Homo sapiens: one gene and its partner. The protein of the gene in region 1 purifies or fractionates together with the protein of each later gene. This does not show direct contact. Each region holds a gene or a part of one and is shown on either strand. Other genes may lie near its edges.

What was found. The genes of interacting proteins can lie anywhere in the genome.
Region 2: the proteins of SCRT1 (region 1) and PRMT9 purify together in Homo sapiens (affinity purification with mass spectrometry; one large-scale study listed by BioGRID and IntAct). This does not show direct contact.

Annotation. Positions count from the first base shown.
Region 1 is NC_000008.11:144,334,299-144,338,045, forward strand, and holds the start of SCRT1 (transcriptional repressor scratch 1), read right to left. Parts: upstream 2,185-3,747; 5' UTR 1,872-2,184; coding exon 1,757-1,871; intron 894-1,756; exon of another isoform or gene 689-893; intron 1-688. UniProt on the Homo sapiens protein: Transcriptional repressor that binds E-box motif CAGGTG. Can modulate the action of basic helix-loop-helix (bHLH) transcription factors, critical for neuronal differentiation.
Region 2 is NC_000004.12:147,667,067-147,670,713, reverse strand, and holds part of PRMT9 (protein arginine N-methyltransferase 9), read left to right. Parts: coding exon 1-73; intron 74-2,068; coding exon 2,069-2,175; intron 2,176-3,647. UniProt on the Homo sapiens protein: Arginine methyltransferase that can both catalyze the formation of omega-N monomethylarginine (MMA) and symmetrical dimethylarginine (sDMA). Specifically mediates the symmetrical dimethylation of SF3B2.

The sequences.
Region 1 (3,747 bases):
GCAGGGAGGGGAAGAGAGGGGAGGAGAGGATGAGACAGGGCCGGGCCACGCTCCGCCCCCGCCGCCCCACCCTCGCAGAGAGGAGGAGAGAGGCGCGTCTTCGGGCGCGGCTGCCCCCCTTCCGCGGAGCCTCAAGGTCAGGGGGGAGGGGCGGCGCTTCCCTCTCCCTCCTCCCCCACCCACCCTCCCCTCCCCCTCGGGTTCTCCCCACTTCAGCAGTTTTCCCTGATTATGCAACACACTGCAGACCCGCGGCGCACAAAGCCAGGACTGCCGGCCCAGGGACCCCGTCTGTCCCACCTCTCCGGGGTCCTGGCCGGCTCTCCCTCTGGCCTGCAGAACGTGCGCTCCATTTTGATGTTGACCCCCTCTGGCCTTCTGGTTCCTCCAACAAGCCCTGAAGACGTCTCCCTCCCCCAGTTCCCTCCGGCCTCACCAGCACCTCCCTCAGCTCTCCGGCCACCCACTGGACTTGACCCTGCCCTCCCTGCTCCTCCATGCACTCTGCTTCTCCTCCGAACTCCCTCTCACCATCCTGCACCCTTGGGTCCTACCCTGTTCAACATTGCCCTCTCCTGCTCACACCCTAACCCCTTTCAGGGCCTTCCCAAGCCCCTGAACTGTGCAGAGAGGGCCAGGGCGTCCACTTTCACAGGGACGAGCTGCAGGAGGGCAGCATCACTTATACCGGTAGCTGCAGTTGCTCCCCAGGCACAAGATGGATCTCATAACCTCAAAGTCACAAATGCACGCCCCTCGCGACGCTCTGCCTCCTTCAGGGCTACACCCAGTCTCCCAGCATGATCAGCCCTTGTGTGCCCTCACAGGGTGGGCTGCACACTGATGTGCCGAACTCACCACCTCCTCACTCACGCAGGGTCACACATGCAGTCACCCCGGACACACTCTCAAGTCACATGGTGCACAGCGGCCTCAGAGTCACATGGTCCCATGTAGTGGCACACAGGCAAGCACACACACACACAGGGTCACACACAAGCGCACACGGTCACATGGCCACACACAGTCACATGGACCCACACAGGCTCACACTCCTGCAGGTCACACTTGCTCTGCCACCCCATGCTGCTGGCACTCCTGTCCCCCTCTCCTGCATGCTGACAGTTGTCCTTGAACTTGGGCACCCTTACACAAAGAGCCTCCCCCTGCCTCCCACACCTTGGGCGTCCCTTGCTCACAGCCTCCTCCCTGCTTCCTCTCCCTGACCCAGGCTTCAGGGAAGAGACTGCTGCTGCCTCTGCTGGCCCTCTGCTCTGACAGGTGGGCGGCCCTGTTGGACCCCCTGCCTACTCCCTGGAGCTCCCTGCATTCCCCAGCTAACCCTAGCAGGTGTCCTGGTGCAGTCAAGGAAGAGGAGAGGGTGGCGAGGCGGCCCTGGTCTCTTGAGTGTAGGTCTGTGTGTGCCGGCATGGCTGGGTCCCGTCATGGCAGCGCCCATGCGGCTGTGTCTGTCCCAGCATGGGTCAGGATGTGGGTCCATGTGTGCGTTTGGGTACCTCAGTTCCTGATCCTCTTCCCCACCCTCTGTCCAACGTCGACACTCTCCCTGCCCAGCCTTGGCCTCTGTGTTCCCCTTCCTCCCCTCTACCGTCCAGGCTCCAGCCACAGACTCTTGCCGTTTCTGGTTCCCTTCAGTCTGTTTCCCCGGGCCCTGCCCTCCGCCCCCACACTCTGGCCCTCCACCGCTTCCAGCAAAGCCCCAGGCCCCGCGCCCTGGTCTCAGACCAGCGCTCACCTTTATCGTGCAGTGGCGCGCCGAGGTCGCTGCGGGCGCGTCCGTAGGCGCTCTCCAGGTCGGCCGAAGAGAACGCGTCAAGTTTGACCTTCTTGACCAGGAAGGACCTGGGCATGATTCCTGCGGGGCTCCGGCGCTGTGGGCCTGCGGAGCCGGGGCTTGGGGGGGCTGCGGCGGCAGGGCCCCGTCACCATCCGAGGAGCGGCGGAGGCAGCGCGGGTCCCCACTCTGGCCTTTGGATGCTGCCGCGCGAGTGGTGTCCTCTCTCCTTGCTGCCCTGCGTCTCCTCCGTTGCCCCTCCGGATCCCTCTTCTTCCTCCTTCCTTCAATCCTTCCTTCCTTCCTTCAATCCTTCCTTCCTTCTCTCCTCTTCTCTCCTCTCCTCTTCCTTCCTTCCCTCCTCTGGTCCCGGCTTCCCAGCCCGCAGTGCCGCCCCTGGACAGGCGGGGGAGGAGGCTGGGGGGGCGGAGAGGGGGGGAGCGGCTCCGTCCCGGGCCTGGAGGCTGCGAGTGGGTGCAGGGCTGGCCCGGCTCGGTGGCCCCCTTCCCCTCCCCCCCCCCGCCGCCGCGGCGGAGCCTCAGTCAGCGGCCCCCCATGCCCCCGGGGGCGGCGGCGCCGGGCCCGGAGAACGCGGTGGCAGCGGCAGCGCCGGCAGCTTCAGCACCGCGGCCAGCGCCGGCCTGGGCAGCACCGCGGCCAGCGCCCGGGCGCGCTCAACCGGCGCGGGCGGAGAGGGGCGGTCCGCGGGGGTTTGGCCGCCGGGCAGGGGTCCTCGGCGGGGGTCTCTGGGAGGCTTGCTTTATTGTTCTGCAGCCGGAGCGAGCGGCAGTGGCGACGGCGGCGGCGGCGGCGGCGGCGGCGGCGGGCGGGGGGCGGGGGTCCTGGGGGGAGGGGTGCGCAGGGAGGGCGGGCCGAGGGAGGGAGGGAGGGAGGGACAGGGGCTCCGGGGGCGGGGCTCGGCGCTCGGACTGCTCCTGGGCCCGGCCTCCAGAGCCCGCAGCCGCCTCTGCCTGCGGCCCGGCCCAGCCTCTGGCTTTTAAAGCCCAGGAGCTGGGGGAGGGGGAGGGAGGTGGGGGAGAGGCCGGCGGAAATGGCTGCGCTGGGCCGAGCCCCGGCCTGGGTCTCCTGGGAGGGGTCCCGGGGATGCCTCAGCCTGCGCGAGTGGGGAATTCCCCCGCGCGGCTCGGGGAACCGCGGCCCGGCAGCCAGCAGCATTGTCGGGCGTGTGGGGAGAAATGGAGCCAGGCCTGGGACCCAAGCGCCCCGGACTCGGGGTCTTGTGGGGAGGAACGTAGGGAGGACCCCAGTCCCGCCTGCCTCGCTCGGGGCCTGGGGCGCGGGATCTGCGGGGGCGGGCGGGGGAGGCGGGAGCCGAAGGAGCAAGTGCTGAGGCAGCGAAAGCGCAGCGCGCGCCCTGTGCCGCAGTGGCTCCCGCCGCTCGGTCACCCCGGCTGACCCCGTGCACGCTGGAGGGGCCTACCCGCCCCCGCCTCTCTCCCCCCGGGCGGGTGTGCGGCGCAGCGGCGTCGCTGCGAGCCGGGTGTGGAGCTGGAGAGGGGCTGCCACGACCCTGCTCCAGAAATTCTGCTGCTTTGGGGGTTTTCCGCCCTTCCGCGCGGCTGCAGCTCCCCACGGCAGCCCCGCAACCAGGCGGATAACCCTTTCCTCGGCCGCCCGCCCAGCGTTTGCAGCCCCCATGACGTCAGGCTCAGCGGCCAATGGCGGGGCGCCGGGCGCGGGGGCTCCGGGGCTCCGGGCCGCACAATGGCCGCGCGCGGGTGCCTCTGTCCCCAATTAGGGCCTGGCGCCGCCATTGTCCCCTCACCCGCCCCGCCCGGTGGTCCGGGTCTACGGGCTCCGAGCGCGCTCCCACGCGCCCCGCTGCCGCTGGGGACCAAGGTCGCGGGGGCGGCCCCGGGGAGCGTCCGGGCGCGGGTGTGCCGGGAGCGCGTGCGATACTGGAGCGCGCTCGTTGCGGCGCAAAATGACCT
Region 2 (3,647 bases), on another chromosome or scaffold:
TGCAGGTTTATTTGGAGAAGGAATTGTGGAGAGTTTGATTCATGCATGGGAGCATTTACTTTTACAGCCAAAGGTAAGCAGTATGAAAATACTTACAACTGATTAAGAATTCGTTATTTCATCAGAGATTTATTGAATCCTTAGTATATTTACAAAACAATATGAAATATATTTTCCATTGCCAAGGTGTACATACTGTGTGGTTGGAAAGAAATCTATGCAAAAAACTTTTACTGGCCGGGTGCAGTGGCTCATGCCTGTAATCCCAGCACTTTGGGAGGCCAAGGTGGGTGGATCACCTGAGGTCGGGAGTTCGAGACCAGCCTTACCAACATGGAGAAACCCCATCTCTACTAAAAATACAAAATTAGCCGGGTGTGGTGGCGCATGCCTGTAATCCCAGCTACTTGGGAGGGTGAGGCAGGAGAATCGCTTGAACCCGGGAGGTGGAGGTTGCAGTGAGTTGAGGTCACGCCATTGCACTCCAGCCTGGGCAACAAGAGCGAAACTCCGTCTCAAACAAAACAAAACAAAACAAAACAAAACAACATAAAAACATTTACTAACAACATGATTCAATGTATAATTATGTGCCTGAATGAGATATACAGGCAAAAATACTCCAGGGAAGAATTCATAGGAATTGAGATTACTTTATGGACGGACTGACTATGGAATTCTTGAGTAGGGTTGAAAAACGGAGGTACTTTCAGTCTTACAGACCTCACTGCCTAGAATTTTGGCAAATTATCAGAAGGGAGTATAGTAATAGCTGGTTTGGTTCTGTTTTCAGGTACCTGTTGAACCCAGGCTATGGCTTGGACAGGACTATTATAATTGCCAAATTATATTTTGCATTGAAATCCTCTATTGTAGCCCACAAATCATTGATTTGGTTTATATGATATGTGTTATCAATGAAAGGATTTTAATATGTAATAAAAATTCAATATTAACAGAAAATTATTTGGATTTAAAATTGCTAGTTAAAGGTTGAAAAGAGCAGTTTTTTTTTTTTGAAGTAGCAACAGGGTTTCACCATGTTGGCCTGGCTGGTCTTGAACTCCTGGCCTTAAGTGATCCACCTGCCTTGGTCTCCCAAAGTGCTGGGATTGCAGGTGTGAGCGAACGCTCCTGGCCAAGCAATTTATTTTTTAAGTAGGTATTGATACTGATTTCTTGATCAAAGTCATACCCAAGTCTTTTTTTCTATGCAGACTTACAGTCCTTTCCCCCCCATCCTCCCTCTTTTCTTGTATCCTTTGCATTTGTATTGTGAGAAAAAAATATATATATTCATACATATATAGCAATGAAAATACTTATTCTGTTTTTTTGAGATGGGGTCTCACTCTCTTGCCCAGGTAGGAGCACAGTGGCACGTTTTTTAGCTTACTGCAGCCTCAAACTCCCGGGCTCAAGTGGCCCTCCCACCTCAGCCTCGCAATGTCACCACACTTGGCTAATTAAAAAAAACATTTTTTTTCTGTAGAGACAGGGTCTTGCTATGTTGCCTAGGCTGGTCTCAAACTCCTGGCCTCAAGTGGTCCTCTCTCCTTGGCTTTCCAAAGTGCTGGAATTGCAGGTGTGAGCTGCCAGGCCTGGCCAAAAATACTTTTTTTTTTTTAAAGATGGAGTCTTGCTCTGTAGCCCAGGCTGGAGTGCAGTGGCGTGATCTCGGCTCACTGCAGCCTCTGCCTCCTGGGTTCAAGCGATTCTCCTGCCTCAGCCTCCCAAGTAGCTGGGACTACAGGCGCGTGCCACCACGCCCAGCTAATTTTTTATGTTTTTAGTAGAGATGGGGTTTCACCGTGTTAGCCAGGATGGTCTTGATCTCCTGACCTCGTGATCCGCCTGCCTTGGCCTCCTAAAGTGCTGGGATTACAGGCGTGAGCTACAGTGCCCAGCCCAAAAATATTTTTTAAGGAAGAAAAAAAAACCTTTAACTTACTTTATCCTTACTTATTGTCTTTTTAGGTTTTTTAAATTATATTTTCATAGCTTATCATTATGCACACACATTTTTACATACATGTGATAACATAATTCTTATTGTTATTTTTTTTAGACCAAAGGTGAAAGTGCTAATTGTGAAAAGTATGGGAAAGTTATACCAGCAAGTGCTGTTATATTTGGGATGGCAGTAGAATGTGCAGAGATAAGAAGACATCATAGGTAAGTGTATTAGTCCATTTTCACACTGCTATAAAGCACCTCCCAAGATTGGGTAATTTATAAAGGAAAGAGGTTTAAATGACTCACAGTTCTGAATGCTGAGGAGGCCTCAGGAAACTTACAAACATGGCAGAAGGGGAAGCAGGCACGTCTTATATGGCAGCAGGCAGGTTATGGGGGGCAGAGAGAGAGAGAGAGACAGCACGAGACCACGTGGGTGAGTGTAGGAAAAACTACCATTTGTAAAACCATCAGATCTTGTGAGAATTCACTCCCTATCATGAGAACAGTGTGGAAGAAACCGTTCTCATAATCCAGTCACTTCCCTCCCTCAACTTGTGGGGATTACAATTTGAGATGAGATTTGGGTGGGGACACAGAGTCAAACCATATCAGTAAGTGACTATTTAAATAGTAAATATTGAAAAATAGTAATTATAAAGAGAATATTACAGAGGTTAGTTAGTGAATATGTATTTGGGTGAGGATTTGTAGTTTTGTGACCTTTAAATTCATGCTGCTTACACTGGTCTTATTTTTTTTTTTGCCTATTTTAAATGAAACTTCATGGTTAAAGCCAGTTTTTTTTTAATGGAAAATTAATTTTGATACAACTTAGGACTCTAGTTGTGATATATTCATGTAGAAAAATATTAAGTTCTGACTGATTTTAGGTGAAGTTGGAATGAAAGATTCCACTGTGAAAATAAATTTTGGTCTAATTACTTCAATTTCCCTTTTCTTAATAATTTCACTAATACTGTAATGATTTGTAGTTGGGCTGGATGGAATTTTAGGATCTTTCTAAGCTTCTTCCAATAACTTAATCGTAAATGTAGCATATAAATATTTTAGGACATACTGATAAGTGGTTTGAAAAAAATGAAAACCACTGTGAACCCCTCACCAGTAAGTAACTACTTTTCATCTTTGTTATATATTCCTTTACTCTTTTTCTTTGTATGTTACAGGGAGATAGTAAAAATGTTTAGAGATTGGTAGGACACAGGGCACTAACCAGACAGTGGACTTAATTAGCAGATTGGCTGAATTAGAATGTACTGGTTGAATATTAGTTCCATTTAAGTAAATGTAGGTGTGTGTAAATTTAATTTTGTTTAAAAACTCAGTAAATATATTTGCTTTTCCTTTGTGAGCCTTTTCATGTAATAGATTTGGTTCATGACTTTAAAAAATCAACTTCTTGGTGTTGTAGTTACTGGAGTTTAGAATTTTTGGATTGCTTCCACTTTTCTGCTTTTAAGAAGTAGGATAAACATCTTTGCACTTATGTCTTGTGGACTTGTTTCTATTATTTTCTTAGGATAAATTCCTTAATAAGGAATTACTGGGTTAAAGAATATGTACAGTTTTCAGGCTGTAGGGATGCCTTACTGCATTGCCCACCAGAAAAGCTAGGTTGTGTCTTGCTGAGATTTCTTGCTGTAACATGGCTGGACCCCTTCCCTCAA